3 separate regions of the Homo sapiens genome follow, and all the other regions are linked to region 2. Evidence: fine-mapped expression QTL. A gene starts in region 2. Each other region holds a variant in brackets. All regions are shown on one strand. Distances are from middle to middle. Region 1 overlaps LOC124904200. Region 2 holds the start of ST6GALNAC3 (ST6 N-acetylgalactosaminide alpha-2,6-sialyltransferase 3). Region 3 overlaps ST6GALNAC3 (ST6 N-acetylgalactosaminide alpha-2,6-sialyltransferase 3).

Region 1 (8,281 bases), 21 kb after region 2:
AAAGAAAATGTGGCACATATACACCGTGGAATACTATGCAGCCATAAAAAACAATGAGTTCATGTCCTTTGCAGGGACACGGATGAAGCTGGAAGCCATCGTTCTCAGCAAACTAACACAGGAACAGAAAACCAAACACTGCATGTTCTCACTCATAAGTGGGAGTTGAACAACGAGAACACATGGACACAGGGAGGGGAACATCACACACTGGGGCCTGTCGCAGGGTGGGAAGCAAGGGGAGGGAGAGCATCAGGACAAATACATACATGCAGAACTTAAAACCTGGATGACGGGTTGATAGTTGCAGCAAACCACCATGGCACATGTATACCTATGTAACAAACCCGCACATTCTGCACATGTATCCCAGAACTTACAGTAAAATAAAATATATATATATATATATATATATATATTAAGGTGTAATACAAAATCCAATTTTCATGCTCTAAATCAAGGATCAGCAATCTTTTTTCTGTAAAAGGCCAGACAACAAATATTTTAAGCTTTGCTGGTCTCCCTTACGAAGAATCAACTCTGCCATTGTAGTGCAAAAGTAACCATAGACAGTATCTTAATGAATGAGCGTGACTGTGTTCCAATAAAACTTTATTTCTCCTAAACAGATAGTGGGCTGGATTTGGTCAGTAATTTGGACTGTAATTTGTCAACTTCTATTCTAAACCACTATGCTTTAAAAATCTGAGAAGGTAGAAATCATAAGACATTGACAGGTAAAAAATATTACTGGGCTTCAAAGGAGGGAGACATTATAGCTTGGGTTACCAAAAAAGGCTTTATAGTGGAGGAGGTGATTTAGTGGGGTTTGAAAGATAGGTTAGATCTATCTACATGTGAACACCAGAGCTTTGGGTATCTCATGCAAAGAGAATAATGAGAGTAAAATTATGGAGACAGGATATGGAGTGGGGTACATAGAGTAAGAAGAGATAGTTCAGGTTGACTGAGAAACAGATATGTAGACCAGTGAGATAAGAAAAGTGGGGATTTTGTTGGATGCGATGGCTCACACCTATAATTCCAACATTTTAGGAGGCCAAGGTGGGAGGATCACTGGAGGCCAAGAGTTCAAGACCAGATGGGCAACATAGTGAGATCCCATCTCTTATAAATAAATAAATAGATACATAAATAAGAAATGTGGGCCTTTCATTAGATAAAAATATCTGGAACTGAAAAACAAGAGTTTTATTTCATAGAAAATTGGAAACCACTACATGTTTGTGAGGAGAGGGGTGGCATAAGAGAGGGAATAGTTATATATGTTATGCTTCTTTATGATGATGAGAGACAGTTGTGCCAGAGGGGTCAAGAATTAACCTGGGCCATCATGAGTGAAGATGCATTTCTAGTCATTGCAGTAAACTAATCTGACTGGAAAGGGCCCCAGTGAAACACTTGAAAAGTTTCCCCCACTAGAGTAATGAAATGAGAAGACATGTTCCCAACTGCCTACACAATGAGTGGAAAAGGATCGACTGCAAGAATCGGAATCTCAAGGCTAGGTGGTGGATTCAAACTACTTGCTCATCACCTGTTAGTCAGGAATTCAGGCTGGGCTTCGCTGGTTGGGCTCCTTCTGCTCCACTCGGGGCTGGGCTCATTCACTCCCTTGCTTTCAGCTGGTGGCTCCAATGAGCTGAGTAAGATGGAGAGGGCCAAGAAATCTTCACTTTCATGTTTAATTCATTGATATGCCATTTCCCTCTATATGTAGACAGCATGAGCTTCTCCACCACATAGTGGTCTCCAGTTAGTTATGCTTCTAACACGATGACTGGCCTCCAAAAGGGAGCTCTCCAAGTAGTGAAAGCAAAAGTTGGGAGTCTCATAAGGCCAGTCTTGGAAGTGATGCAGTGTCATTTCTGCCACATTCTGTCAATCAAAGTCAGTCACAGGCAGCTCAGAATCAGGGGAAGGGATCATAAACTCCACCTCTTGATGGAGGAGTGGCAAGATCACATTACAAAAGAGCTATTGGGAGAGGGTCTATTGTTGTGGTCTTCTCCAGAAACACAATTTACCACAGAAGTTTAACATAAAAATTAATCTAAGGCCAATGAAACCTCCAGGGACCTGGCAGAGGCAAACCCCAAACCACTTCTGTAGTTCAGGCCTCATGGGGGTCCCATGGTAAACAAACCTTGTTGAAAATGTGCTTGTGATCAAAAATTACAAACGACATAAGGAAACAGGACACAGATACAGCAGAGAGCAGAACTGGCACACCATCACCTGGAATAATGGAAGAAAATGAAAGAGATTTAGAAATAAACATGATTAACATGTCCAAAGAGCTAAAGGTAGAAAATATTAAAAAACACATAGGCATGCTTGAAAAGGATGAAATTGAAATCATAGTGACAAAAAGTATACTCATTGAAATAGAAATCCCAACACAGGTGACAAAGAATTAATGAAATGTAAGATAGACCTAGGGAAATTATTTTAGCACAAGTGCAGCACAAATAAAAGAGATATTAAAAACATGAAATATCTAAGGGATATTAAGATACTAAAAGGTTAAAATAAGAGTCTAATTCATACATCTAATAGGAATTCCTAAAGGAAGGAATGGAGAGATTGGAGAACCAATATCCAAAGAGAGTGTCTGAAAGCTTTCCACAATTAAAGAAAGAAGTCATTATATTTAGTAATAAATCATAGCAAAATTTAAGCAAAATAAATAAAAATACAAATACACAACAAGACACATCTTACTGAAAATGCACAACATCCAAAACAAGAAGTAAACAAAGCTCCGGGGAGAAGAAAATAAGACACGGTAACAATGGAACTGACAGTCTTCTCAGCAATAATAGGTAGATAATAGAATAATGTATTTTAAATGTTGAGGGAAAATAGCTATCAATCTAGAAATCTTTGAGTATGCAACTGTTGTTAATAATTAAGGCTAAATAAACCCATGTTGTAAAAAAGACAGAAACCATCCGATCAGAATTTTGTTATTTAACTTTACTGCAACATGCTTTATATACAATAAAGTACAGCCATTTTAAGAACACTGTTTGATCGCACTCTTGTAACTACCACCACAATCAAGATACAGAACATTTCTGTCACCACGAAAGGTTTCCTTTATTCCTTCCCCAGTCAATTTCCCCACCCCACCCTTGGCCCCAAGTAACCACTGCTCTGCTTTCTGTCACTATAAATTAGATTTATTTTTTCAAGAGTCTTTTAAAAAATGCTTTTAGACTGCATGTAATCTTTGTGTCTGGCTTCCTTCACTCTGCTTAATGTTTTTTGAGATTCATCCATGTTATGTGTATCACTAGTTTATTCCATTGCACAGAAAAGAAAACTGATGCTTCAATATTAATTCCAGACAAAAGAAAACTTAATCAGAAAGTACTGTTAGGGCTAAAGAGGGGCTGTATATAAGAAAATTACACCAAGAGAGTAAAATAAGCATGAATGCACATGTTTCTGTCACTAAAACGACAAAGCATTTAAAGTAAATCTGATAAAATTACAAAGACAGTCCAAGTGCAGTGGCTCATGCCTATCATCCCAGCACTTTGGGAGGTCAAGGCAAGAGGATTGCTTGAGCCCTGGAGTTTGAGACCAGCCTGGGAAACATAGTGAGACCCTGTCTCTACAAGAAATTTTTTAAAAATTAGCCAGGCATGGTGGTGCATGCCTGAGTACCAGGTACTTGGGAGGCTGAGATGGGAGGATGCTTGAGCCCAGGAGGCTGAAGCTGCAGTGAGCTACGACAGCCACTACACTCCAGTCTGGGTGACAGAGTGAGATATTGTCTCAAAAAAATAAAAAAAGAAGATAGGAAATTTAAAATAAGAATGGAGGCTTCCCTGATAAAGTCATCAGTTAGTTGACTCTTACACTGTTATATGCTTAATCATGCTAGCAAATCAAAGCATAATCATACTGGCTCCACTTGAAACAATATTAGTGGAAAGGGTATTGATATGAAGGAGTTAACACTATTTGTCATTTTCTAGGCCGTTGGTAACCATGCTTTTGCGGAAGATTTAAAAACAGTGGGTTGCTTTCCCTTTACCATAAAATAAAGACCAAAATGACCAAAAAAAAAAAAAAAATAGACAGCATTAACTGAGCATTTGTCGGGCAATATGTTAAACACTGTACCTGCATTCTCTCTTCACTTCTTGCATCAAGTTTTTCCTCAGTTTCATGGAAGGAAAACTGAGGCTCACAAGGGGTGGCTACTGAAAAGCAACACCAGGACTTCAACCTGTGTCTAACTCTAGAATCAACTTCTAATCCTACTAGACCATACATATTATGTCAACCCAACAACAGCAGTTTACAAATTTCCACCATTAACTTCCCCTTCTGACAGCAGAACACATTCCTGACCTGAATCCCTACTAAGCCACTGGCCAGTTCATTCTTATTCAAACTGTGGAGCAAACACTCAGCTGGATTATTTCTCACGTAAAACATTCCATCTGCAGAGAAGCAAGACTGGCTTATGTTTTTAAAAACAGTCTGCCTGGGGCTGGCTGTGTGATGGAAGTGAGAGGCGGCGGGGTACCCTGGCCGTGGCTGACAATGAAATGCTGGAGAACAGAACTGGGGAATGAGTTGCAGACACAGCACATCAAAGCCACAGTGAGTGGCCTGGAAACAGGCAGCTCAGCGTCACCCAGCTCCTGCTGCTGCCAGAGGAAGGATGCTGCAACGGTCATCACTTAACCACTCTCTGACTGCCAACAACCACAA[T/A]AACTAACACCTTGCACTGAATTATCATGGACCCTTGTTTCCTGTGACCTCAATCTTACCTTACCCCCTAGATCATCTTCCAAAAACAAGGTATATATTTTTTAAAGGAAGACACACTGGAGTTCTCATATGGACTTTAGAAAGCTGTAAAAACTAGACCCTGAATGAATCTACATGTTTGTATGTTACCTCACCTAATCATAGGTTTATGAAATCAGACCTTTCCATAACGTGAATTATGTCTTACACAAAAGAATAGAAAAGAATAACTCATTGCTATTCTGCAGCCAGCTTGTAATTTTCTGCAGAAAGATTATGAGAAGATATAACATTGTAGGGACTTACATAAAACACAAACCTAAAAGATAAACATTACCTTAGCTTTTGCCAAACACTGTGTATATTGGTCAGCTAGTATGAGGCCTGGCATGTGGTTGGTTCTAAATACATGTTTTGTGATAACAATGAGTAATTATGACACTTTAGAAGGCTTGAAGCAAAACTCTCTGTTGAATTAAGTGAAATGAGTGCTATACTGTGTTTAGATGAGCAAAATAAAGGGACAAATGAGCAATTGTTAAATGAATTTAATCAACCTGGATCATAAACTACCTAGGTTCAAATTCCCATTCTTCTGTTGGACCTTGGGCATGTTAACTGTACTTGTCTGTGCCTTACTCTGCTCTGTAAAATGAGAATTATAAGGCTATCTGCTGGGGTTGTCGTGAGGATTACATTAAATGACACATGTAGGCATGTGTTGTGGTGCCGAGCATGCAGCGAGCACTTGGCAAATGTTGGCTCATGACTTTATTATTATTTCTCTAGGCCACTTTTTCAGTTGTTTTACCTTTATGAATAAAATGTAACCATAGCAACTTCAAATAAACTTTTTTTTTTTTTAATAAGAGACCTCTAAACACTTAAAACCCCAAAGCTGACTTTCTTCCCGTGGTTAATGTGATGGTTAGTGTGGCCCAGTGTTTCACCAAATATTAACTTTTATTCTTCCCTCTCCTCACCCAAGACACTTGTCCTTAATGAAAACAGAAAATTGCTTTCCTAATTAACATTTTCAGAAATATGGCCTGATTATGCACCATTTTTAGTCAAAATAAATAGATATGTCAGAAATGTTCTCATAGGCAGTGGGCTAAAAGCAGCTTTGATTTCAGTGTCAGAAGGACTAGACAGTAGGTTTTTGAGGGAAAGATTTGTTGGTCCACAATGGCTGTAGCTTAGGTGCTTGGCGCAAAGCCTGGCATATGCTAAGCACCCAATAAGAGAATATGTAAACTTCTAGTTGATTCCTCTCTGTCATAGCAAGTGGCTCTCTATGACTTCAACCTCCAAAGATCATGTGGTGTCATGAAAAGAACCTAAATCAAACACACCTGGCTTTAAATCTCCAAACTTTTTCTAGATCTATGGTCTTCAGCAAGATAATCTTTCTAAACTAAGCCACAGTTTTCCATCTGTAGATGGGACAACCTTATAGGATTTCAGTAAGAGTTAGTGATAACAATGGTAGCTTGATAGGGATAGCATTGAATCAGTAAGTTACTTTGGGCACTGACTTTCTTCAAAGAATTAGAAAAAACTACTTTAAACTTCATATGGAACCAAAAAAGAGCCTGCACAGCCAAGACAATCCTAACCAAAAAGAACAAAGCTGGAGGCATTATGCTACCTGACTTCAAACCATACTACAAGGCTATAGCAACCAAAACAGCTATATAGACCGATGGAACAGAATAGAGGCCTCAGAAATAACACCACACATCTACAACCATCTGATCTTTGACAAACCTGACAAAAACAAGCAATGGGTACAGGAGTCCCTATTTAATAAATAGTATTGGGAAAACTGGCTAGCCATATGCAGAAAACTGAAGCCGGACCCCTTCCTTATACCTTATACAAAAATTAACTCAAGATGGATTAAAGACTTAAACATAAGACCTAAAACCTAAAAACCCTAAATAAAACCTAAGCAATACCATTCAGGACATGCACAAAGACTTCAGGACTAAAACACCAAAAGCAATGGCAACAAAAGCCAAAATTCACAAATGGGATCTAATTAAACTAAAGAGCTCCTGCACAGCAAAAGAAACTATCATCAGAGTGAACAGGCAACCTACAGAATGGGAGAAAATTTTTGCAATCTATCCATCTGACAAAGGGATAATATACAGAATCTACAAATAATTTAAACAAGTTTACAAGAAAAAAAAAAACCAACAACCCCATCAAAATGTGGGCAAAGGATATGAACAGAAACTTCTCGAAAGAAGACATTTATTCAGGCAACAAACATATGAAAAAAAGATCATCATCACTGGTCATTAGAGAAATGCAAATCAAAACCACAATGAGATACCATCTCATGCCAGTTAGAATGGCGATCATTAAAAAGTCAGCAAACAACAGGTGCTGGAGAGGATGTGGAGAAATAGAAGCACTTTTACACTGTTGGTGGAAGTATAAATTAGTTCAACCATTGTAGAAGTATGACAATTCCTCAAGAATCTAGAACCAGAAATACCATTTGACCCAGCAATCCCATTACTGGGTATATAACCAAAGGATTATAAATCATGCTGCTATAAAGACACATGCACACATTATGTTTATTGCAGCACTGCTCACAATAGCAAAGACTTGGAACCAACCAAAATGCCCATCAATGATAGACTGGATTAAGAAAATGTGGCACATACACACCATGGAATACTATGCAGCCATTAAAAAGGATGAGTTCATGTCCTTTGGAGGGACATGGATGAAGCTGGAAACCATCATTCTCAGCAAACTAACACAGAAACAGAAAACCAAACACCGCATATTCTCACTTATAAGTGGGAGTTGAACAATGAGAACACATGGACACAGGGAGAGGAACATCACACACCAGGGTCTGTCGGTGGGTGGGGGCTTGCGGGGAGGGATAGAATTAGAAGAAATACCTAATGTAGATGATGGGTTGATGGGTGCAGCAAACCACCATGGCACGTGTATACCTATGTAATAAACCTGCACGTTCTGCACATGTATCCCGGAACTTAAAGTATAATTTAAAAAATTTTTTTTAAAAACCACACATACAACAAAAAAAAATAGTGATAACTAATGTAAATACTTCTTGGACATAATAGTGCACAATAAATGGTATCATTCTTAAATTAACTTCCTGAAGATTTTATCATCCACGGATTCATCTACATTTTAGTTGAGTCTATTTAAATCATGCTTCATCGTTCTCACATTTTTCTATCTCATGTGTTAATGCAGAATGGTGTAGGGTAATGAGCTTACATTCTGGAAACCCACAGATCTGGGTTCAGAGCCATCTCTGACACATAGGGAGAACAGGGAGAGAGTTCGCTCCAAGGGAGCAAAGACAGAAAAAAAAGACCCTGACCTATCATTTACTAACTCAGCGACCTTGAGCAACCAAGGATTTAACTTCCTAAGCCTTGATTTCTTAAATGGAAATGATAGTTTAACCTTAACCCATAGGGTT
Region 2 (8,246 bases):
AGATTATCTCATTTAACCTTTAGAATAACCCATTGAGGAATGCATGATTCCCATTTTGGAAACTGAGGTAGTGAAATCAAGAAACTTGTTATGGCTCTATAATCAATAAGGAGTGGAGCCATAATTAAAAGTCACATATTTCTGGCTTTAAAGTCCAGGCAATGTGAAGTCTGAATTCCTAAATTAAATGATTATGAAGTGATCATCGTTCTGTTACGAGAACTAGCGCTATGCATTGGCAGAATGGGCCCTCAGCATGCACAGCACCTTGAGGGGATAGTTCCATATCCCCTAAAAGACCAAAATTAGCTGCCACAGCATGGGGGTCTCTTCTTAGTGAGGGTCACTATTGTGTAGGCAATAATGATACTTTAATCAATATCTCTCTATCTCAGTTTTCTCATTTGTAAAAATGGATAGTAAAATCTACTGCAAAATTCATTGAGAAGATTAAAGTCTTAGCCCACAGAACAAAGTTGGCACTGCCTCAAAACTTATCTTTCTAAAACACGAGCTCCGTCATAGTAAATCCTATTTAGTCTTCAAAACACAACTCCAATATCATCAGTGGGAAGCCTGTCTGAACTACCCAATGACAGGGGTAATTGCTCTCTCCTTCCATGCTTCTACTATGCCCTCCATGGACCTATGTAGTTTTATTCTTCACATTGTAACCTAAGCACTCATTTACTTTTCTATCATCCTTACTAAACCATAAGCCATTTGAGAATGGGGTCAATGGTTTATGCATCTTGTGATGTAAAAGGAATCAGAACAGGCTACCCCAAAATATATCACTTTGGCATATTGATTATTTTGAGCTAAAGGCAATTGAGAAAAAGCAGATACAGGAAGGGCTTTCTGACCTCCCCATTTCTACCTAAAAGCAAGGCATAAAATTTCCCATGAGAAATGTCCCTTCCCTGTGCCAGGAAGAGGAGAACATTCTTATGATCAAAGATGGAGAGTCAACACCAAAATAAATCTCTAGTAAAAACACTCACCTATTTTCCATTAGTTTTCCCCATACATTTCCCACTTTCTCACAATCGACTGCCCCAGCCCAAACCCCCTTTTTCCTTTGTCTTGTCACATTTCCACAATTTATCCTTCTCTATTAAAATGCTTTATAAACTCTCAGGCCTCTCCCCTTCTTCGGGTCTTTATTTCTTATATAGGAAGCCCTCTGTGGTACACATAAAAACATTAACATCAAATAAAATGTGTATGTTTTTCCTCTGTTAATATGCCTTTTGTCAGTTTAGCTATCAGGACCAGGCACAGAAACTAAGAGGGCAGAGGAAAATCTTTCCTTTTCTACATATGCCAACACCAAGTCCAGGGTCAGCAAATGGCAGAAAATATTTCATTAAAAAAAAAAAAGTCCATAGTTTTATCCTCATAAAAACCCTGTAACGCAATGGTTATAATTCTATGAACACTTCAACAAGGGAAAACTGAGGCTCCAGGTTGCAGCAGCTGTCTAAAATCATATGCAAGAAGCCAGGCTTGCACTGAACTCAGGTCTCTGGACTGAAACCTGTATTCTGCACTGCTCCATGTGTAGCTTTTCAAAGACAACAAAGAAAAAAGATCCAGCCCAGACTGTCTAGACCATGACCAGAGAAGGGGATTGCTCAAAGGTGCTCAAAGGTGGTTGGAACTGAATGGTATTAGGCCATCTTAAAAGTCATCACCTGGGAAAGTACTGGAACAGCAGTAAAGTATATGGAAGGTTGACATATCTGGGTCTAAATCCAGGATCACTCTGTCATTAACCCTGTGTGGCCTTGGGCAAATCTCTTAAACTAGGGAGCGTCAACTTTCTCATCTGTAAAATGGGGTTTAAAACAATGATACTTATCTTTCAGGGTTTTATGTAAAGATTAAAGAATAAAAAACATTTTGTATTTTATAAAAAATAATAGTTATAAGAAACAGACTGAGGATATAGTAAGGATCAACCAAACTGCACTTATTATTATATGTTAGAGGAAAAAAATGGCACATATTAAATGCCTGTGCCACAAAGTATTTTTCATACCCTATCTTATTTCATTCCCACAGCAACCTTGTGAAGCAGGTGCCACTACTTTGATCTTATATTGAAGAAACTAAGGCCCAGAGACATTTAAGTAACTTGTCCAACATCACAGAGGTAGCAGTGGGCAGAGCCAGCATCCAGACATATCTTTCTGAGTCTAAAGCCCACATTAGTTTCAGTGGAGGGAAGATAAGGTGGACAGATATGTCCCAAATGTCTGAAAGCAGTGTGAAGTGCTAGAAGAGAAAGATTGGACCAGATTCATGTGTAGTTTGGGATGTGCATTAAAGATGTTTACCACATGTATAGGACAAGGCAGGGGAGAAACCAAAACAGAAAAAGATGGCCAGCAATAAATATCATGCTCCTCAATGTCCCTTTCAGCAAATAACACAATGAATAGTAAAGATGACTCATATTCATATTTCAGTCCTTGTGCTAAGAGCCTCCCGGTCAAATACCCCATACTGTAATACTGATGTATTATTTCCTCATGTCCTGGAAAATGTTCTGAAACAAAAAGAGGAAGTTCAGAAAGCTCACAGGAAACTTCTGATCTCCTTTACGCAAAGAAGGGGAAACAACTTCTACGAGGTTAGTCTCTTATTTTCATCATTGACACCAGGCACGTTAGAAGACGATTCAGGTAACCAGAACACAGTAGATGACTTAATATCATCTTATAGAGAAATAAATGCTACTTCACAATAACACAACAACAACGAATTGTTTCCTGGTATTTTCCATCGTCACACAGTTCCCCCAGGCTTGGACAACTAGGTCTCTGCATTCTCCAGTCAAGGCCCAGGAAACTTTCATGCTGTTCATGTTTTTGATTCATGCATCCAGGTTATGTTCTTGTAGAAAGGTAGTGCAAAAAAAAAAACGAGGGCAGGGGAGGCCTCTACCAGTGGGATGGAAAGTTCTTTTTAAGTGAGGCCCTCACACCAAGTTCTCCCACCTGAGGCCACAAGTCTGTGAACCCAGAAAGATGCTCAGGTGAGGCTAAGAATCCGGTCTTGGAGAAAGAAAACTCAACAAAGAAGGGATGGCTGAGCGCACTCTGGCAGAGCATAAAATCATTTTGTCTATTCAAATTTATGAGCATAAAGAGAGTGAGAGGTTCTCTACTAACATATACATCCTCGTGTGAACTTTTCCAAAGTAGAGCTAAGGGCAAACAGAGCTAGCAGATCTCATAGAAAACTCATTCCTAAGGGACTACCTGTAAACTCAGAAGTTTCTGTCTTCACATGATCAAATGCACAGTAGAGCCCACCTCCGCTCACTCTTCCCTCCATTTAAAGCGCTATGCCCCTCACCACCAGCAACTCACGCCTAGCCACTCCACCCCTCCCCGTGGCCCCTGAAAGGCCTCAGGCTCCACAGAGCCGCGGGACCCGCGGGAACACCCCTCCTCTCCCTACCATCCCCATTATTCGGCACACAGCCCTGCTCTCCCCTGGAGCCAACAGTCTGCAGCTCCTTCAATGCAGGCGCGAGCAGGAGGCAGGAATGGTGGGAAAAGAAGCTGTGCCAGCTGCATGTTTCAGAATCTCCCTCCATATGCATTTGCCAAAGGAACAAAAAGAAAATCAATGCCAGGAAAAGACAACTGAGATGAGGATGCGGTGGGACCGCGGCTGACTCCGTGCCTCTGAGCAGCAAGGGGCTGGCCAACCACGCGTCCGAGCCACAGATCCAAGTCGTTACCTTCAGGATGCAGGCCATGGCGCTCCGCCGGCCCTCCTGCCACCGAGCAGCGGGCGCGCCTGGGTCAGGGGCAGTCCTGGGGGCAGGCTGGAGGCTGGTACCACGGCAGGACCTCTCCAGCCCACATTCCCGCAGATCCAAATAAGGGGACCGCGGTGTAAGCTGCGCCGCCACAGACCCCGCCCCCCGAGCCGCGGCCCCGCCCCCGTCCCCATCCACTGGCCCGCGGCCCGCGCGGCCCCGCCCCCGGGTCACGTGCCGTCCTGGGCGCCGGCGCCGGCGGCTCCTCAGTGCCTGCTACTTCTTTCTCTTGTTTTCTTCTGTGAACCTTTCGCGGCTCGACGTGCGCAGAGTGCGCTCTGCAGCAGGCGGGGACCTGGGTCCCGCGGGGGGCAGAGTACGGCCTTTTCTTCTCGGTTCCGTCTCCTCTCACACATCAGAGAACTCCTTTTTACAGACGTTTCACACTTTGTCAAAGTTGAGTGGGTTTGGCATCGCCCTTCTGGAGACTTTGGGCACATCAAAGGGCTTTTCAAAAGTAGCAACGAAGTTCTCCCTGGGCTGTTCAAGGATTGAGCCTTCACTCTGTGATGGGCTTATCTAAAATTAATAATTTACCGCTAATAAGTGAGCACAAATATCAACGAAAGAAAGACGTCATGAACCTTACACTCTGTATGGTATATTTTGTGTGTGTGTACATATTTTACATATACATGTATGTGTGTATAATATATAAATTATTGCCTTTTCCTGGTACAAGCTTGTTTATGAAATTGTATATGCATGATATACAGTATACAGATACAGGATGCACACATGTGTATATTGTATTATATATGTACATGTTGATTGTACAGTATATGTTTATAAACTGTGTATGTGTACATGATAGGACTTTGCTCTTCCCTGCTCCAAGCAAGAGCCGGCTAAGAGAAGCAGTTATTTCTACAAGGAGAGTAAACGCATTGCAGAAGGGAGAGAGCATTCCGTGTACACACACAGATTTTTACCACTTGGTCTGTCAGAAAAATTTTAAAAGCGGCCCCCAAATATCTACCCAAAAGAAGTTTCACTTGCTAGAAGCTCCGTCTAGTTTGCCTCCATGGAATCAGGAAAAGCACTGTGGGCTGGTGGTGTCATGAGATTGGCTCACAAACCACAAGGCAGAATCCAGGCTTTCAAGGAATTTGGTATTTTCTTGATGAGAACATGCAGAATTCTTAGAGAGCAGGAGTAACCACAGGAAGGAGGTTGCAGAAGCTGAGCCTGTGGATGAACTGCCTGTCCCATGGGAAGCTCCTGTCTTCAGTCTCCCTGGAATACCACACCCTGCTCTTCGACTTCTTCCTCCCGCCCCTCCCTCCTCTGCCTTACAGATCCGGTGTGTTTTTAGTAAGAATTCTTTGTTTGGGACTATATACTTTAAACCGCTGCTTTAGCTCATGGTCCTTCATAGGCCAGGAAAATTCAGTATTTCATTCATTTACTCATCCCTTGATTGATTCCACAAACTTTTTTATTGAGCCACTACTAAATGGAAGAATAAACTTTATTCACCTTCCACTAAGTGGAGGAAAAATCTTTATTGAAGACCTTTCAGGGATAGGAGAATGACTTTCAGAATATCTAACATCAAGGTGGGCTCACAGTTAAGTGAGAAAGACAAGAATAAGAGATACATGATACTATAACATGGAAAGGGCCTTAGCCAAATTGGAAGCAAAGATCTCAGGAAGGAGAAAGAGAAACACCTGACCGTCCCCCAGCCCGACACCCGTAAAGGGTCTGTGCTGAGGAATATTAGTAAAAAAGGAAGGCCTCTTGCGGTTAAGAGGAAGGCCTCCGTCTCCTGCATGTCCCTGGCAGAACAGCAGAGCAAAGGGGTGAGGGTGGGCAGAGCACATCGTTCTCTCTAGAAAGTCTGTACATCTGGAAAGAGAAACAGCAGGCCCTAGTGAACAGCCCTGCTAAGTACTTCCCTGCTGGGTGTCCTTGATCAAGTTTCTTAACCTCTCTTTAATCCTTACCTTATCTAATATTATCTATCCTCAAGAGAATTAAATGAGATAATAATGTTTGCAAATTGCATTTACCTCAATTTCTGGCACTATGAGCACTTTTTATATGATAGCTCTTTATGTAAAGAAAAAAATCTTCCGCTAAAGACAGACTTGTGGGAGAAGATGAATAGGATAATTGCCATCAGCCTTGGGTGTCTCAGGAGGATGAACACCAACGGAGCAAACTTTTAACATGTTATGACTTGGGTATGCCGTGATGAGGCCTTTACTAATTCCCTCAATCTACTTGGATATGGCTTTCTCAATTACATTTCTATCCACCCATGTCCATACTTCCCAAGGTGTTATTTTTTTTATTAACATCCAAAAGTTATGTCAAACAGCTAGAAATAAAGGCACATTTATAACAATCTAAAAACAAACTCAAGTTCTAGAATAAATCTGGACTGGAAGATTTACAAAACAGTATTAACAATCACTGTTTTAGATGGACCACTCGATGTCTGGGGGTGGGGGGGAAGCTTTTGGATGGAAATAAAAACAGGTTTTGAACCTACCAGGGAATGGAGATAGCCAGATTTGTTGGGGCTGGGAGGATAGGAGTGTGTTGCCAGGATTTTTTTGTTTTAAAACTGGCCAAACTACAGGAACAGCTTAGTCAAATCCATAGGTGTAGCATAATTTTCCAGCTCTAACATTATGTGACTTAAAGCCAAGAGTTTCTATTTCCAAAAATAATAATAACAAAATGGAGCATCCTGCAATTAAAGAAAGTATCTCATTTGATCCTCACAACATCCACATGGATGTTATCATCCCCAGCTGGTAACTAGGGGAACAGGGGTTTGAATCTAGGGACTTGTGGGTTTGCCATCTTAACTGCTACATTCAGCTGTCCAGTATGTTAGAAGCCCAATTTCTGTCATTTGTCACTCTTCACATTTCATCTGTTGTCTTAGTGTAGCCATAGGAAAACTTAGGGTAAGTATGAATCCTCCCCGGGATACAGACTAGGATACAAAACCTAGGGTAAATATGTGAGTATGCAGAGGATAGGTACACTCTATCAATCTGAGTGTACCGGATACATACACTCACCCTGTATTTTTCAACCCTCAGCCCCTGGGTCATACCTTAACAAAGACCCAGCACTTCTCATCAGTCTCTCACCAACCAAGCTGTTACCACCTTCTGTGCATGAGAATGACTTCCAATCAAAGATTCTCACTGCTGCATCTCACCTACTACGTGGGGGTGCCACAGAGCAGCCTGCCAGCCTTTGCTTCCTTTCATGGAGAGATCCTTGGACCTGGCCCTTTCACTACATCAGCCTCCCTAGGGCTCTTCTTGGCTTCCTGGTCCACCTTCCCTCTCCTCAGAGGCCTTTCACTAGTGAGATTTCACCATGCCTCAAGGTGGAGACTTCATGAGTTATGACAAGTCATGGGTGAATATTTGCTATTTAAATTCAGTTTTGCCTCATTGTAAACAGCCCCATTACCCAATAATTCTCAGAGTTATAACATACAGTTAGTTCCCTGATAGAAATAGAATTAACATGCTGACTCTCATAACTTTTCCAATTTCAGCCTGCACACATATTAATTTAATATATTTATATGCAACACAGAGTCATTTATTAAGATTTTAATTGGATCTCAATTTTTCCAATCTAAAGATTTTAAATGAATTCCAGATATCATAAAACTCTTTGTCATCCACTACATAAATTATGCCTCCATAGGAGACTGTGACTGGAAGATCCATTAGAAAATGTTATGGGAAAGTCATTTTTTTTAACATTCTGAGCCAGGATAGGAAATGATCTTCTTTTTCTAGAAATCATTGCACTGTTATAATTGTGACCTAGGAAATTTTTCATATCCTAAAGCAGGCATCTAGCTGTCCAGGTCCACACGTGTGTCTGTAGCTATGTTTAACTGCATCTTGGCTATGCCCTTTTAGGTAGCTGTTTATGAGAATACACTGACATATGGGGTTAAGCTTCATTTCTCTCCTTTTCGATAGTAGGACATTCCAAAATGTCATCCAGTTTGCATTCCCAAGACTTGAGCTTACTGCTATTTCAAACCTTTGCACAGTTCTTCTAATCCAGAATTCGTCAACATCCCTGACTATACTGATACTTATCTGGGATGAACTCCAAGACAAGTTACGCATGATTTAAAATTGCATTTTTAAAATATTATATATTTTCCCATTCAGTAACATTCTCCCTTAACTTCATCTCAGCTCTACCTTTCCCTATTGGAAGTTTCCATTTTTTTTCAAATGAACCAATTAAGAAAAGCTGTTTTTAATTTTTAAAAAATCCAAAACTAATGTTGTTTGCCTACTTTTCATTACCTAGAAGAATGTAGTTTTTAGCCTGATTTGTTTTTCTTAAAGAGTTTTCCTCTAAGTTTTTTTTTAAAAAAAAAAACATAATCAATTAAAAGTAAATA
Region 3 (8,000 bases), 28 kb before region 2:
TAAATCAACTAATTAAAAGAAAAAATTTCCCATTGGATTTCATTATCATGACAATAATAACAACAACAAAAATATAAGATTTATTGACCACTCATTATGTTCAAGGCCCTATGCCAGGTGTTTTCATATACATATGAATTCTAAAAGACAAGCATTCTTGTTGTCATTTGACAGAGAAGAAAATAGACCCAGAGAGTTTAAGAAAAGTGCCTAATGTCACAGTGATGATAAATAGCAGAGCAAATACCTGCACACAGTTTGGTACGACTCCAAAGCTTATACTCTTTCCATGTTACCTGACAATTCTATTTTCTCCATCATGTGAAGAATTGTCTCTCATAAAAAAAGCTAATCGTTCCAGTTTAAAAAAAAGAGTAAGAAAATTATTTGAAGTGGTATTTGTACAATATTTTTTTAAATGTAATAGCCAGACGGTAATAGCACTAGCAATCCAGGATGTATTTTATAGGGCTATTAATATATGCCTCGAGTGGTCAAAGGCTTTGCCACTCACTTGAGGCAAATAGTAATGGCCAATAAAACTTGCCTTGTCATGTCTTAATACCACATTGTATCATCACACTTGTAATGAAATGCTCTTAAACTTCAGTGTTATCAGAAAGGAAGAAAAAGTGGTAATTAAATGAGCTAGCAAAATGAGGAGGAAGTGTGGAAAAGTGGAGAGAGCCCTGAGTTGAGACCTTGGCCTAACTCTCCCATGCACCTCTGTGACCTAATCTCAGGATGTCAGCATCTCCATCTGTAATCTGTGGTTCATTACGACAAGCCAAGACTTCCTCCAGCTCCCACAGTCTGTGGTTCTTCAGTGAATTCACATTCATTTAACAATAGCTCACTGAAATCATCTAGGGGCACACCTGTGCTAGAAGCTCAGGACAGCAGTAACCAAGGCAGAAGTCTTTGTCTCTGATGCTGGCCATTAGAGGTAAGTGGATGGCTGTGAGTTGAGATATTGCCTTGCTTTAAAACTTTCTCTTCTTATAGGTTGTGAATATTTCCATGCAAATTGTGACAAAATCTTGATAAGAGTTGCATTTGAGTGATGGGGGAATATTTGGACTATTCCCTCCACTTCTGTAATTTTTGGAATTTTTAATCATAAAAATGTAAGGTGGATAGATGAGAAAAGCTTCAGAGAGACTACTGCTTCTGATAATGACTCACTAGATATGCCAGATAAAACTTTTGATATGATTTGGCTGTTTCCCCACCAAATCTCATCTTGAATTCCCACGTGTTGTGGGAGGGACCCAGTGGGAGGTAACTGAATCATGGAGGTAGGTCTTTCCCGTGTTGTTTTCATGATAGTGAATAAGTCTCACAAGATCTGATGGTTTTAAAAAGGGGACTTTGCCTGCCCAAGCTCTCTTCTCTTGTCTGCCGCAGGTGAGGCATGCCTTTCACCTTCCACCACGATTGTAAGGCCTCCCCAGCCCTGTGGAACTGTAAGTCCAATAAACCTTTTTCTTTTGTAAATTGCCCAGTCTCAGGTATGTCTTTATCAGTAGTGTGAAAACAGACTAATACACCTTCCCATTGAAGATAAGTAAAAGAGAGAAAAAGCATTTATTAAATGCTTTAAAACACCTCAAATCTAAAAAAAAAAAAAAAAGCGTCAGGCCAGGATCAAGGGAAGGAAGAAGTCTGGACAAAAGAAGCTGGCATTCTGGGCCTATTTCTCCCCTAACGACATATTGAGGAGCCAAGGAAATAAAGATTTGTGTTTAAGTCCTGCTAAGGATGGGGGAACTGACCAGGTGTATCATTTGTTTTGGACTGGGCTCCTCAAAGAGCTGTGTCCTAGCAGGAAGGGAGAATAGAGAACTAAGAGGCCCTTGCAGAGGTCTATGGATCATCTTCAAGCCATCTCAATATCTGAAACTAAAATCAGATGCTTCCAGAATTCTAATGCCCCAAGTGCTTGCAGAAGCAAATGTAAATCCCTTCTGGGGTTGAGAAACCTCAATCTTGACCTCAAATTATATCTGTAAAAAATTGTACGAATATACTGTCTCACACACAATTAAAAATAACCAAGCACATAAGGAGATAAGAAGACATAAACAAAACCAGCAGAAATAACAGAAATAGAAACCCACCCACAAGCCTCCAGATACTAGAATTATCTGAAACAGACTTTTTGTAAAAAGTCTTCCTATTTATAGAAAGAGAAAATTATAAAGTTGAGAATTTCAACGTACAATGGTATAGCAGGCTAAAAGGTGGCCCCAAAAAAGATATGTCCACATTTTAATCTCTGAGACTTGTGAATATTACCTTATGTAGCAAAGGAGCAAATAATACATTATATGGAAAAAGATGTGACTGAATTAAGGGTGCTGAGAGGAGGACTTACCTTAAATTATCAAGATGAACCCTGAATGCAATCACATGTATTCTTATAAGAGATTGGCAGAAGAAATTTTAAGACAGACACAGAGAGGAGAAGGCCATGTGAAATGGAGGGACAGAGAGATAGCTACAAGCAAAGGAAGGCCAACAGCCACTAGAAACTAAAAGAGGCAAGGGGTGGATTCTTCCCTAGAGCCTTTGGAGGGAGTGTGGCTGCTGATACCTTGACCTCCAGCCTCCTGAACAGTGAGAGAATACATTTCTGTTGTCTAGGCTACCCAGTCTCTAGTAATTTGCTACGCCATCCTATGGAACTCATAAAAATGAGAAACTCAGAAACAGAGAGAGTCGAATGAAAATTTTAGGCCTAAAAATACATTAACTAAAATTAATAACTTAATAAAGGAAGAACAGACACAGCAGAAGCAGGAATTAGAAGCCAGAAGAAAATAACTAGAATAAAGTATAGAAAGACAAAAGGATGGAAAATACAGGATAAGACACTACAGGATACAGTGAGGAGGTATAACACATATGTAACTATAGCCCATGGAAATGGAAAAGAAGAGACTGAATGGGGAAAAGCAATATTTGACAAGATGAATGATGCCTGAGAACTTTCCAAAACTGAAGAAAGATATCAGGCCTCAGAAGGAGCCAAGACAAAGAATCCTAGAAACCCCAAGCAGGAAATGTAAAAAGAAAACTTCACCCAGGCCAATTACAATAAAACTGCTAAAACCACAAAGAAAAAAAAAAAAAAACTAAAAATCAGCATAAGGGTGAAAAAGAAACAAAAATTGGATTTTTATCTAACTTATCAACAGAAATAAAGAAAGCCAGAAGTAAATAAAATATCTTTTAAGTATTGAAAGAACATAACAGATAGCCTAGAATTTTATGCCCAGAGGAAATATCCCTAAGAGTGATAGTAAAATAAAGCACTTCAAACAAAAAACAAAAGAATTTGTTACCAACAGACCTACAATAAAGGAAATAGTGAATGATGTTCTTCAGGCAAAAAGAGAGTGCTCCCAGATGAAAGATAAATAATACAAGAAAATAAAATGAAGAACAAAGAAAAGAATAAATATATGATTAATCAAAATGAATTATGACTGAATAAAGCAATAATAATAATAATGTCTTGGGCATCTGAAAGGTATAGAAGTAAAATACATAACAATGACACAGAAGTCAAGAGAGTGATAAATGCCATTAAAGTGGTCTAAGACCTGAGTCAAGATGCATACTATAATCTCTAGTGTAAGCACCAAAATAATAATAAAAGAATATACAACTTCCAAGGTAATAGACAAATAAAAAGTGGAATGGTTAAAAGCAACAACAACAAATCCTCAATTCAACAGAAGGGAGAAAAAGAGGAGAAACTGGAACAAGGAACAAGCAGGACTAAAAGAAAGATAGCAAATTAATAAAATAATAAATTTCAACCCACCCGTGTATTATTACATTAAAAGTAGGAAAACTCAATGCTGCAATTAAAAGACAAATTCTGTCCAACTCAACCATATGCTGTATACAAGAGACACATCTAAAAATAATGCTATAGAAATGCAGGAGCTAAAAGTATTCAAATAGGCACACACACACACACACACACACACACACACAAACACACCAGGCAAATACTAACTGAAAGAAAGCTGGTGTGGTTTTATTAATATCAGATAAGATAGACTGTAAGGCAGAAAGTCTTACTAGGTATATGGAAGATCCTTTGTAATTGAGAAAAAGACAAGTCTACAGTCATATTATGGAATTTTAACATATCTCTCTCAGAAACATATAAAACAAAAAAAGACAAAAGAAATCAGTGAGAATGCAGAAAATCTGAAGAACATAAACAGCAAAATTGGCCAAATAAACATATAGAACATTGCACTCAACAAATAGAGGATATACTTTATTTTCAAGCACATAGCAAACACGTATAAAAATATGCCAGATGTTATGAAATCAAACACATCTCAACACATTTCAAGCACTGAAATCATTCAAAGCGTGTTCTTTCCTCACAATGCAATGAAGCCAAAAATCAATAATGAAAAGATGGCTAGAAAATCCCTGGTAGAAATTAGAAACTGCTCTTAACTGAATGATAATAAAATGATTTCATCTAAAACAGCAAAAACAGTACTTAAGGGGAACCCTATTGTGTAAATACATTACGACAAAATTTGAGAATCTACTAACCACTTCAAGAAATCATTTTTTAAAATCAGTCAATTTAAACAAAAGAAAGTAGAAGAAAGGAAATGGATAAAGAGCAGACGTGACTGAAGTGAAAACAAGCATACAATATAAAAGATCAACATGAGGAAGTGTTGAAAACACTCTTACCACACAAATCTTCATATAGGTGTTTATTCTGTGTTTACGAATACAGAAACTGTACTTATAAGTGCCAAAACTTGGAGCAACCAAGCTGGCCTTCAGTAGG[A/G]GAATGGATAAGCAAATTCTGGTACACCTAGAAAATGAAATATTGTTCAGTGCTAAAAACAAATGAGCTATCAAGCTGTGAAAAGACATGGAGGAAACTTAAATGCATATTAGTAAGTGAAAGAAGCCAATGTGAAAAGGCTACATACTCTATGATTCCAACTATATGACCTTCCGGAAAAGGCAAAACTATAGAGACAGAAAGAAAGGTCAGTGGTTTCCAGGGGTTACGGTAGAAGGGAGGGATGGATAGGCAGGCACAGAGTGTTTTTAGGGCAGTACCACTATTCTGCGTGACACAATGGTGGATATATTTGTCCAAAACTCATAGGATGTACAACACCAAGAGTGAATCCTAGTATAAACTATGGACTTTGGGTGATAATGATGTGTCAATTTAGGATCATCAATTGTAACAAATATAGCACCCTGATGGGGGATCTTGGTCACAGGGAAGGCTGTGCACGGATGGGGCAAGGGTTATATGGGTTATCTCTGTACCTTCTGCTCAATTTTGTTGTGAATCTAAAACTGGCATTAAAAAAATGTCCATTAAAAAATTTTAATGCATAATTTTAAAACTTCCCACAAAGGAAAAAAAAAAAAACAGATTCTGATGACTTCCCCAGATAATTCTACCAGAACTTTAAAGAAAAAACAATACTGATCATACTCAAATACCTCCAAACAATAAGAGAATACATTTCCTAACTCACTTTAAGCATAACCTCGATAACCAAAACCTGACATGGACTTTATGAGAAAGGAAAATTTCAGGTCTAATTCATTAATGAACATAGAGGCAAAAAGCTTAAACAAATTATTAGCAAACTAAATATAACATCATATAAAAATGTTAATCCATCTTGACCCAATTGGGTTGCTTCCAGAAATGCGTGGTTGTTCAACATTTTACAAATATTCATTACATTAGCAGAATTAAGCAGAAAATACATATAATAATTTTAATAGATGCAAGATTAGCTTTGATAAAATTCAACATCCATTAATGAATAAAACTTCTTAGCAAAGGAGGAATAGAAGGGAAATTCCTTTAAAATATATCTATAAAAACACTACTGCAAACCTAACACAGTGATAAAATATTGACAACTTTCTCTTTGATATCAACATCGTATTAATTTTTGGAGTCAGTACAATCAGGTAAAAAAAGATATAAAAGATAACACAACTAGAAAAGAAGAAGCAAAAGTGCCATTTTTAGCAAATGATATGATTGTGGATGTAGAAATCCAAAGAATCTACAGATAAAATTAATAAGTCAATATAGCAAGATTGCTGGATATAATTTTCAGTAAATAAAAACTAACTACATGTTTATAAACCAGCTATAAACAAAATTAAATTTAATTTTTTAATTTCCATTGTATCATAAATACTTAACAATACCTCAAAATAAGTGGATATTTCTTTGAAAAATATGAAAAATTTCTACATAAAAGCAAAAGAATATTAATGTGAGAATTGAAATGCAATAGTACTTGGAGCTATATAACATATTCCTAGGTTGGAAGACTCAATTTGTAAAAATGTTAGTCCTTCCTAAACGAATCTATGGAGTTAATGGAGTCTTTAAAAGAAAACTTAATAAAGTATTATTTATTTACAATAAAATATATACATTTTTAGGATGTGGTTTAGTGATCTCTGTAATCATCACCCCAGTTGATACCCACATGCCCCTGTAAAGCTCTTCCCACTAATCTGCCCACTTCATCCCTGACTTCAGTCAACCACTGATTGATTTATATCACTGTAGAGTTGGGGCTTTTATAAACGTCATATAGATAGAATCACGTATTACGTACTCTTTCATGTCTGGCTTCTTTTGCTTAATGTAATGTTTTGGAGATTCATCTACATTGTTGCATGTATCGACAGTGCATTCCTTCTCATTGCTTAGTAGTTTTACATTTTATAAACATACTGGTTGTTTCCAGTTTGGAGCAATTACGAATAAAGGGGCTATGAATATATGCATGTACCACTCTTTTGTGGACATACGTTTTCATTTCACTTGGATAAATACCTAGAAGTGGAATTTTTAAGGATTCAATGCAGTCTTAAATAAAAACTCAGTAAATAAGATCCACAATTTTTGTGGAATTTTATGAGCTAATTCTAAAACTCAAAGGAAGTATAAAGGGCCAGGATCACCTTAAAGAGAAACAGCAAGGTGGGAGGTTTGGCTCTATCAGAAATAAAGACTTATCATAAAACTTATCATAAAAAACTACAGTGTGACATTGGTATTAAAATGAACAAATAGATCAATGGATCACTAGAATTTAGCAACATATCCAGAAAAAGACTCAAACATATGAACATTTCGGTGTCTCTGCCAAGCAGTAGCGAAAGCACAGTCTTTTCAATGAAAGATGCCAGGAAAATTGGATACCATATTGGGGTAAAAAATGATGCCCTATTTTACATCATACAGAAAAATAAAATCGAAATAGATTTTAAATCTAAATTTGAAAGGCAAAATAATGTAGTTTCTAGACATTAATATGCTAAAATATTTTCAAGAAATCAAACTAGTGAAAGACTTCTTAAGGAGGGATTTTAACAATTATTAATTGTAAAATAAAAAATTAAGAAAATAGGCTGTAGTATAATTGTTTTGTTCATAAAAGACACCAGTAAAGGAATGAAAAGACAAGCTAAAATGTGGAAGAAGATATTTGCAACACATATGATTGGAAAATATATATTAATGCATAAAATATATATAAAACACTCCTACCCCCCTAAAAGGTAAAAGAGAACCCATTTTTTTAAATGGGGAAAAGACTAATACAGGCAGTTCACACAAGAAGATATTCAAATAGCCAATAAATATCTAAAAGGTGTTCAACCTCATTCTTAATCAAGGAAATGCAAATTAAAACCACAAAGAGATACCACTGCCTACCTAACAGAATGGCAAAAGTTTAAACCAATTGTTGTCCAGAAGCAAAAGGAACTTCTGTGATACTTCTGGTGGAAGAGTAATTTGATACACTAATTTTGGAAAACAGGTTGGTAATATCTACCATCAGGAAAAATTGTGAAAGATTTAGAATAGGGAAGAAAAAAAAGCATTGTGATCGTGCAGTCTAATGCACCCTACTGTGTTACTATGCCTTTCTATGTCTTTCTGC

The links. PIP is the estimated chance that this variant, and not a neighbour inherited with it, causes the effect.
Region 1: its variant is fine-mapped to the expression of ST6GALNAC3 in whole blood (TOPMed, PIP above 0.99).
Region 3: its variant is fine-mapped to the expression of ST6GALNAC3 in whole blood (TOPMed, PIP 0.93).

What each region holds. Positions count from the first base shown.
Region 1 is chr1:76,049,491-76,057,771 of GRCh38, reverse strand. It overlaps LOC124904200, which reads right to left. Exons shown (of 5, transcript XR_007066173.1): 3 at 2,168-2,259; 4 at 1,559-1,663. Among named protein-coding and RNA genes, the nearest start is that of ST6GALNAC3, 21 kb to the left of the region's middle. RefSeq lists an enhancer at 4,521-5,021. The variant T/A (reference allele first, on the strand shown) is at 4,756.
Region 2 is chr1:76,070,396-76,078,641 of GRCh38, reverse strand. It overlaps ST6GALNAC3 (ST6 N-acetylgalactosaminide alpha-2,6-sialyltransferase 3), which reads right to left and starts at 3,896. Exons shown (of 5, transcript NM_152996.4): 1 at 3,758-3,896. The coding sequence starts at 3,775. RefSeq lists a silencer at 3,896-4,095.
Region 3 is chr1:76,098,244-76,106,243 of GRCh38, reverse strand. The region is part of intron 1 of ST6GALNAC3 (ST6 N-acetylgalactosaminide alpha-2,6-sialyltransferase 3); the gene reads right to left. Among named protein-coding and RNA genes, the nearest start is that of ST6GALNAC3, 27 kb to the right of the region's middle. The variant A/G (reference allele first, on the strand shown) is at 4,838.